Regions from separate parts of the Homo sapiens genome. Here all the other regions are reported to be linked to region 1. The links are microRNA targets in miRTarBase. Many come from high-throughput screens and were not tested one by one. Region 1 holds a microRNA gene; each other region holds the end of a gene's coding sequence.
What was found. Region 1 holds the annotated microRNA hsa-miR-4739 (AAGGGAGGAGGAGCGGAGGGGCCCU, at 1,649-1,673, shown strand). A microRNA usually pairs through its seed, bases 2 to 8, with sites in the 3' UTR of a target mRNA and lowers its output. Matches are read on the target gene's strand: a 7mer-m8 pairs with bases 2 to 8, a 7mer-A1 pairs with bases 2 to 7 and ends in A, and an 8mer does both.

Region 2: the mRNA of DESI1 is a reported target of hsa-miR-4739. Seed matches in the 3' UTR shown: 7mer-m8 at 2,055-2,061 and 7mer-m8 at 1,444-1,450.
Region 3: the mRNA of SOAT1 is a reported target of hsa-miR-4739. Seed matches in the 3' UTR shown: 7mer-m8 at 2,448-2,454.

What each region holds. Positions count from the first base shown.
Region 1 is chr17:79,705,814-79,708,888 of GRCh38, reverse strand. It overlaps MIR4739 (microRNA 4739), which reads left to right and starts at 1,640; the gene lies at 1,640-1,713. It overlaps LINC02078 (long intergenic non-protein coding RNA 2078), which reads right to left and starts at 1,623. Exons shown (of 2, transcript NR_109783.1): 1 at 1,233-1,623; 2 at 1-417. RefSeq lists enhancers at 538-1,159, 1,160-1,781.
Region 2 is chr22:41,598,503-41,601,576 of GRCh38, forward strand. It overlaps DESI1 (desumoylating isopeptidase 1), which reads right to left. Exons shown (of 6, transcript NM_015704.3): 6 at 1-2,688. The coding sequence ends at 2,595. Among named protein-coding and RNA genes, the nearest start is that of PMM1, 10 kb to the left of the region's middle.
Region 3 is chr1:179,353,183-179,356,256 of GRCh38, forward strand. It overlaps SOAT1 (sterol O-acyltransferase 1), which reads left to right. Exons shown (of 16, transcript NM_003101.6): 16 at 403-3,074. The coding sequence ends at 459. Among named protein-coding and RNA genes, the nearest start is that of AXDND1, 11 kb to the right of the region's middle.

The sequences.
Region 1 (3,075 bases):
GCCCAGCTAAGACCCAATTAAGAAAATCCCAGAACCAAGAACGAATTGACTGTTCGGCTTTGGTAATCTCCAACGTGTCCACCAGGTGGTGCTGTCCAGCCACGAATCTCCCAGCTTTGATCTCGGGCTTTGGCCGAGGGCACCTCCAGGGCTGGGGTCTCTCATCGTGTTGTCCCCACTTTATTCCAACGTCCACCCCAGGCCTGGGGGAGCCCAGGGAGGACCGAGTCTCCTGGGCCCCGCAGGGCGCACAGAGGTGAGTTTGGTGGTGCCGTCCCGACCTCGACAAGCATCCCAGCGAAGCAGGCTGAGCGCCCGGCTGGCTCCCTCAGGTCCCCTCTTCCGGGCCTTCTCCGTCCTGTTGATTTGGGTGTTTTAATGCAGGAAAGTAGGACACTGGTTGTCACCTGCCTGCTCCTACAAGGAAAATGCATGTTTGTGTGGTTATCCGTGGCCACCCCCACCAGGGCCTGCGGGGGGCCCAGTGCAGTGGAGGTGGGGAGGGGACTCGTGGGCTCCAGGATCCGTGGAGAGTGAGTGTCAGCGGGAGGGCGTCCCCCGACCTTGGTCAATGGAAGCTGCTCTTCCTGGGGGTCCTGCGGGAGGCCCGTGATGGGGGTGGGGGAGGAGGGGTAAACACCGGGCCCTGATTGGCCGCCTGTCCTTGGGTCTTTGCTGGTCCTAAGAGGGAACGGGGAGCACAGCTGGGGTCACAGCCTCAGCTGGGACTCCTGCCCTCCAGCACCTCAGCATCCTCCCTGCGGGTGCTCTCCTGGGGGCTGCTCAGGGCAGGTGGCAAGTAGGGGGCTGTGGGACCAGAGACAGGGGGTGGACATGCCCAGGGCCTGCCCTTTTGGCCTGCCGTGGAGACCCACCCAGGAGCACCTGGGGGCTGACCCTCCCCTGCAGAGAGCAGGGTGAATCCCAGCCCTGCCCTCACCTAACAGCCGGGTTCGAGGGGAGCGTAATTTATAATGAACCCCACTCCTCCCCCAACACCCGCCACAGGCAGGAGCCAGCCTCTCTCCTGACACCAAAGTCATGCTCCTGACCCTGCAGGCCACAGGGTGAGGAGGACCCAGAGGGGCAGCAGGGTGGGGGCGTTTCATAAGCCAGGGAGAGCTGCCCCTGTACATCCTCAGGCCTCACAGTGGAGTGAGGGGCGGGGGTCGCCTGCGTCCTCCACAGGAGCTCCTGTCATTCCACCTCCGGGGGTGCACTTGCCGACTTACCCCAGCCCTGGACTCACAGGCTGTGCTGCTGTCTGCCCAGGGCCTGGCGATTGCTGCGCCCATGATGGGTCCCACAGGCAGGCCCTGCCCTCCCATCGCTGGCTTCTGAGCAGGGGCTTTGGGGCTGCTGGACCTCAGAGGCAGAGCCGGGGCTTCTGGTGTCCCTATGTCTTGGATGCCTGGTGTCCTGAGGCCAGCGCCCCCCAGCTTGCACTGGGACCGTCCATGGAAGCAACTCCTCTTTCATCTCAGGCACTGGGGGTCCCAGGGCCAGGGAAGGGGCTGCGCAGCACCTCAGGAGCCCAGAAGAGCTGCCCGCCAGGGAGGAGGAGCTGGGGGGAGCAGAGGCCTGGACCAGCTGGGATGTTCCCATCGGCGTGTCCCTCCCGCCCAGGCCACGTGGGCAGGGGAGGAAGAAGGGAGGAGGAGCGGAGGGGCCCTTGTCTTCCCAGAGCCTCTCCCTTCCTCCCCTCCCCCTCCCTCTGCTCATCTCATCATGAGACAGCTGGCAAGGGCCTTCGGCTGCCCTGGAGTGCCCCTGCCCTGGCCAAGCTCTTGCCGCCCCCTTCTTCTGGAGGTGCCAGATGGGGCGGGCCCAAGGCAGTGGAGGTCTGGGCCCTGGCTCCAGCTCTGTCTCCTCCTGAGGGCCCTGGAGGAGCCAGGAGGAGGGCCTAGCAGGGCCGGGCAGATGGTGGGCCGGGAGGAGGGGCTGCCTGGGTAGACGGACCGACTGGCAAGACAGATGGTGGACCAGGCAGGGGTCCGGAGCCCGCCCCATCTGCTCCAGTCCCTGGTGGGACTTTTCTTGTCCACCTCGGGCTGAACTGGGATGGACTGTGTGGGTGGCTGTGGCCCAGGCCGGATTCTGTCACACTGGGTCCTCTGTCCCTGGGGCATGGCCAGCCGGGTGCTCATCTGGGGTCTTGAAGCCTCCTCCTGGCAGCTGGCACGTGGCTGGAGGTCATCATGTTTCGGGGGCTCCTGAGGGTCTGGGGGCCATGACTGAGCAGAGCCTGGGGCGCGTCCCGGGAATGAAGCCACCGCTGCAGATGAGGGGCTTTGTAGGTGGGTGGGTGACTGTAGCCCCTGGAGGGGCTGCCTGGGGCCCAACGCTGATAGGGCCCGGGACAGGAAGATGCTTAGTCACGTGTTTGCGCTGCAGGTGCACCCCCAGCCCAGGCGACATCAACGGCCAGCCCCACACACGTGAGGAGGGATTGTGGGCCCAGGGGCGCTCAGGATGGGGCCGGGCTGCTTCTCAGAAGAGGGGACGCTGAGCCCAAGCAGGCTGCACTCCTGCTTGGACGGAAGGTGGATGGGTGGGGTGGGAAGGGGTGGGAAACGCCCAGCCCTGATGGGCTTGCGGGAGCCTGCGGGAGGGCCTTGCGTCTAGCTAAGGCGTGGGGAGCACCTCCCGTGGCCCCGTCCTTAGACCCCCGAGGGGTGGGGCGCTGCGGGTGGATCCTGGGGGTCTGAGGGTGCCAGGAGGATTTCTCATGTTGAGTTCTAGTGTTGATGATGCTAATCCAAAAAATACCTGAACCAAAAACCAATTCCAAAGAAAATCCCGTGCAGCAATGGCTTTCGATCGGCTGCGGCTTCTGTGGAACAGCTTCGGTGTCTTTGGCGTTTGGTGTTTTCGGACAGGCTCGGAAGTCACGCTCCCCAGGCTCAGGAACCCCTCCTTTAAAGGAGGTCGGTCCGTTTCCTCAAGTCACAGGAGCAGACGCAGGGTGGGGGCGTGGGGCGTCATGGGGAACAGCAGGCGGGGTGCCAGGGTCAATGTTAAGGTCCAGGTCACTCTCCAAGGAGCCCGCTGAGGGCTCAGGGCTCAGGGCTCAGG
Region 2 (3,074 bases), not on the chromosome of region 1:
AAATGGCTGCTAGTATAAAGGGGGGTGCTGTTCAAGGAAATGAGTGACTCAAATTCTCTCAGGGGAGCTGCTCCTGGGCCTAAGGGTGCCTGCTGGAAGAAGCAAACCAGCTGAAACTGGATCTGGAAGAGGAGAAAGGAAAAAAAGGAGCTGTGATGCCCAGAACCCCCTGGATGGAGGGGAGACCCCAGGCAGAGGGGTCTGGAGCAGGACCCTGGAAGACAGAGCCGGGCCAGGCAAGCTGGAAAAGGGAACAACACTGGTGGGAAACAGAGCACTGGCCAAGACCAACCTGCTACCCTCCCAGAAGAAACCCAGCCTCAGAAATTCTTTCTCTTTGGGCCCAATTCTGCTAGTAGATCACGATTATACAACAGTCCCTGCTAGTTTCTGCTCTAATCTATTATTTCCATGCACACTGGCAAATCAGTGGGTCTTGAGAAGAATTAAACTTTCAATCATTTGGCCTCTACAAGTTCCCAAATGTCACTTGACATCCCAGCTGGTCATGCCCCTGGTCAGGTCGCAGGCAAACACTAAGGCAGAATGACAGCTCCTCTAGCTGAGACTCTGATGATGCCAAACTGTGATGGCTGATGGCAAAGATAGCAGCAGATGGGGCCAGAAATGAGCAGCAGCTTTTTGGAGAGGAAAGGCCTGTGCTGCAGGCCAGACTTCCAGGAAGAAGCAACATAATTCAAGTCCGTGAAGTGGCAAGAAGTTGTGGCAGAAGGGGCCCAAGGATGTCAGACCTGAGACTCGGGTACCTGGCAGCTCTGAGTCCCTTCTTCATGCTCACTTTCCCAAAATCTAACTAATGGAGGTTCATGTGAAGAGAGGGAATCTGAAAGTCTCTCTGGATTAGAGACTCCCAGACTGTTCCCTGCCTATAACCTCCTAGCAGCAAGTCATTAGGAAAATGCCCACTCATGCCCCAACCTGCCTTTCTAAAGTCAGAATGACAATGGAAATAACGTGTGCCTTCAAAACACATTTAGGATAAGGGAAAGTCCCTATCAGAAACGATTCTAAATTTTCTTGCCACCTTGATTCCACTTCATTATTTTATTTTTTTGAGATGGAGTCTCACTCTGTCGCCCAGGCTGGAGTGCACTGGTACGATCTCGGCTCATCGCAATCTCTGCCTCCCGGGTTCAAGCGATTCTCCTGCCTCAGCCTCCCGAGTAGCTGGGACTACAGGCATGCGCCACCATGCCCGGCTAATTTTGTATTTTTAGTAGAGACGGGGTTTCACCATGTTGGCCAGGCTGGTCTTGAAGTCCTGACCTCAAGTGATCTGCCTGCCTCGGCCTCCCAAAGTGCTGGGATTACAGGCGTGAGCCACCGCGCCAGGCCTCACATCATTATTCTTTCCATATCAAAGGTATTTTCTGGCCAGGCAGCGGTGGCTCACGCCTGTAATCCCAGCACTTTGGGAGGCCAAGGGAGGTGGATCACCCGAGGTCAGGAGTTCCAGACCAGCCTGGCCAACATGGCAAAACCCTGTCTCTACTGAAAATACAAAAATTAGCCTGGCGTGGTGGCACGCACCTGTAATCCCAGCTACTCAGGAGGCTGAGGCAGGAGAACCACTTGAACCCGGGAGGCAGAGGTTTCTGTGAGCCGAGATCATGCCACTGCACACCAGCCTGGGTGGTAGAGCGAGACTCCGTCTCAAAAAATAATAATAATTAAAATAAAGGTATTTTCTTAGAGTAGGGAATCCCATCCCTTGGTCCCCAGCTAAATACTGCGTACTGGCCTGGATGGTGGTTACAGAGACTGCAAATAACCTACATCATTACTTGCAGAAAAAAGGCCTTGGCTTCTACTGCTCCAGCCCAGACCTCATCCACTATGACAAGTCAGCTATGCTGAGGAAAGGCAGCCTCGGGGGCACAAAGGCAGGTTTCCCAAAATTGATGGCAGAAGATTGGCAATCCATCTAGGTGGAAGGAGGAATGGCTTTATCCTGTTTTCTCCGGCCTGATACTTGCTGTTACTCCCTTGATCCGGAGGCAATGGCTGCTCCAGCACTGGCCTTGCTTGGGGTAAGGGAGGGAAGGTGAGGGTTGTGGCTAAAGAGTTCACTTAGGTTAGGTTAGTCATCCTGAAACCGGTCCCATGTACACCAAATCCTTTGGTTCATTTAACACTAGAGTAACTTTCTGGGTCACGGATGTTCTAAAACTCACCTGGGTCCCACAGGTGTTGGCAACTTGGGTAGAGCGTGAGTGTTCTCTGGAAAGAGTTCTAGGTTGGGGCTCCCGCAAACTGTGACTCGCTTTCTGTTTAAACAAAGCCCCTCCCTTTCTCCAGTGTGGAGGACGCTTAGGAAACAGCATCCGAAGTGAACGCACAGACAAGACAGCCTTAATAAATTAGTATAATACTATTAGAAGGGGTGGCATTTTGTTCTGTTTCTTAGCAGCATTGTCTACATGCGGCCTGACGGTCTCCTTCCCTGGGAAATTTAAAAAGCCGTCCCCTGGTTGTTAGCTCTGATGTAAAATTATAAAATAGAAATCTGGTAGGGTTTGTTTTGTTTAAAAAGGAAAAGCCCTGGTGAGGCAGGGCGGTCCCAGGCAGTCCTGTTAGCTCTGGCCGTTGGGTCTGCCCACGGAGCTCCCTCCTGGAGGCTGGATCTGAATGGAGTCCAGGAGGGGCCGAAGTGCCTGTCCAAAGGGCCTGCAAGGAAACAGAGACATGAGAGGGGTGGGCTCTGGGATGTGGCCTGCTGTCACACACCCTGTGCTGCCCACGGGTAGGGAGGAGGAGTGGGCGCTGGTGGCAGCAGAAGCAGCACCAGCAGAGAAGGAAAGAGCACCTCGTCACCTCACTTAAGTTTCCCACCTGCCTCACACACCAGTGTTCTTGGAGGGCATCTCCGAAATAGCCTGCTCTGTATTTTTATTCCTGGGGTTCCCTCCTCAGGGCCTCACCTCTAGAGCCTGGTTAGCTGTGGTTTGAGTAGGCTGGCTACATACAGAGAACTAGAACTTTCTGTGCTCTATGTGCTTGTGTCTTTAATTCTTGTGAGCAAGGAAAAGATCAAATTTAAGCAGGGAAACTGA
Region 3 (3,074 bases), not on the chromosome of region 1:
AAAATCTAAATGGTGGTTATATATAAATATATATATATATATCTATTTGTCGTCCTTAACCACCATTTAGATTTTAAGGTACTAAAAGTAGGGCTGTGCTAAAATAAAGATACAGAAAGAAATAGTGCCTATTTAGAAACTGGTCAAAGTCCACACAATTGTGTATAGTTTACTGGACTTTAAAAGCTTTATGTGAAGCACCTAATTGAATAAATCTGTGTTATAGATAAAAGTACTGAACATCTTTTGAATTAGTGAGCTGCTTATACCTTGAGGGTTGTTGAAATGGTGGGAGGCATTTTAGAGATGTACAATGTATCATATTAACATCCCTGCCTATCTCCACACCTCCTCTACTCTGTACACAAATTATTTTTCCATTCTTATTTTTCCCCACTGCAGCCCACATTTTTGGATTATGTCCGGCCACGTTCCTGGACTTGTCGTTACGTGTTTTAGAAGCTTGGACTTTGTTTCCTCCTTGTCACTGAAGATTGGGTAGCTCCCTGATTTGGAGCCAGCTGTTTCCAGTTGTTACTGAAGTTATCTGTGTTATTTGGACCACTCCAGGCTTTACAGATGACTCACTCCATTCCTAGGTCACTTGAAGCCAAACTGTTGGAAGTTCACTGGAGTCTTGTACACTTAAGCAGAGCAGAACTTTTTTTGTGGGGCTGGGTGGGGGGAGAAGACCGACTAACAGCTGAAGTAATGACAGATTGTTGCTGGGTCATATCAGCTTTATCCCTTGGTAATTATATCTGTTTTGTTTCTTGACTCTGTCCAATCAGAGAATAAACATCATAGTTTCTTGGCCACTGAATTAGCCAAAACACTTAGGAAGAAATCACTTAAATACCTCTGGCTTAGAAATTTTTTCATGCACACTGTTGGAATGTATGCTAATTGAACATGCAATTGGGGAAGAAAAAATGTAGAATGATTTTTGCTATTTCTAGTAGAAAGAAAATGTCTGTTTTCCAAAGATAATGTTATACATCCTATTTTGTAATTTTTTTGAAAAAAGTTCAATGTTCAGTTTTCCTTAGTTTTTACCTTGTTTTCTCTATAGGTCATGATTTCTGTGAAGCAAAAAGATGCCTTTTACCATGAATTCTTGAGTTTACATCAATAATATTGTATATTAAGGGGATCAGAAGTAGGAAGGAAAAAATAAGAGATAGCAGAGGAAAAAGAAAAACATTTCCTCTTATAACTTCTGAAGTAATTTGTAAAAAAGATTTGTAGAGTCAATCATGTGTTTAAATTATTTTATCACAAACTTAACATGGAAGATATTCCTTTTTAACTTTGTGGTAACTTCTTTGAAGTTATTTAGAAATATCCTTTGGAACAATTATTTTATTGTCTAATAAATATTGACTTCTCTTGAATTATTTTGCAGACTAGTGAGTCTGTACCATAAGTATTAATCACCTCCACTCATATTAAAGTGATCATTAAGAATCCAGAAGCTGGCTTCTGCATTTGCTCAGTTATACTTTTAATGGTAGTATGTTTTTAGGTGGAATAAATTAATATGTGATTGGTTTCAAGGAAATGTACTCTATTATGTAATACTTCCATTTTATAAGATGCCCATTTCTAATACAATGTGTGTAGGAATTATTTGTATGTATGAGGTATGATTGTAAAGATTGAGCATTGGAAGGGGTATCAGAGACCATGTAGTTCAACTTTCCACTCAAAGTAAGATTTATGAATTATTTAAATGATAGTTGTTACTTGGAACAGCCACTTGAGAGGCTCTCTTGGTATTGTTTGGAATTGTTTTAAAGTCAGTTTGAGTCTCACAAGAAGGTAAGTAGAGTTTCTTAATAGTCACAACTTAATTTGAACCACAAGTATCCAGCTTAATCACGTATCTTACTCACGATACCACTGGTCCAGATGAGTTTAGGTAATTTTCAAACATTAAATCCAACTTCAACGGAAACAAATACACTCAAGGGAAGTTATTTTTAAAAAGGTACTCTGCATGTTCCCGCAGTAATGTTCTGCACAACAGTATTGTAATTGTAATGGAATCATAACCTGCTAACTAGTTTGCTTTAATATGGCTTGTAATTCTTGACATTTTTCTTAAAATTAAAACGAATTTTTATTTTGAATTTATAACTGCATTTTAAATATATTGGGGACAGATTGCGCTGAGACCTGGTTATGAGCAAGCCAATCTTTTGAATCTAGAGAATGGAATTCTTAGGTTTATATTTCTGTTAAGAAATACTATAAATATGACTCTTATGAGAAGACTTTGTTGCTCTGTAGTGTTTCTGAATACTGTATTTGTTGGATTGATCAAGGCTATTTTTCAAAAAGCTCTCTGCTTCCTGTTTGTTTGTTTGTTTGTTTTTGAGACAGAGTCTTGCTCTGTCGCCGGGGCTGGAGTGCAATGGCGTGAACTCAGCTCACTGCAACCTCTGCCTCCCTGGTTCAAGCTATTCTCCTGCCTCAGCCTCCTGAGTAGCTGGGATTACAGGGCCACGCCTGGCTAATTTTTGTATTTTTAGTAGAGATGGGGTTTCACCCTGTTGGTCAGGCTGGTCTCAAACTCCTGACCTTGTGATCTGCCCACCTCAGCCTCCCAAAGTGCTGGGAAGACAGGCGTTAGCCACCGTGCCCGGCCTCTGTTTCCTGTTATTAGTGATTTTCCTGCCCAAGATTGCAACAACAAATATGTAGAACTACAGACTGTTTAGAATGCTGAGACTGTTCTAAGAAACTTTCAAAAACAGTAGCACTTCAAGGAATGGTCACTTTCTATGAAAGAAACTGGTTTGATAGCCATAATCTTATTGCTAGCTGCTTTTAGCAAAAGTCTTTTCTTGAAACCACCACCTATACTCTTTAAACAAATAAAAACTAAAATCTCTTGCTAATGTTTCAGGAAGATTTATTTTTTCTATTTTGCTATTGTGGCGAAAATTATTTTCAGTTATAGGATACTTTTTTCCTTCTGAAAAGTAATAAGCTTAAAGTTTTTGTTTCTGTAAGATGTAATGATAGTAACTATTATTTTGGGCATATTAACCAACAGAACAATTATGTAG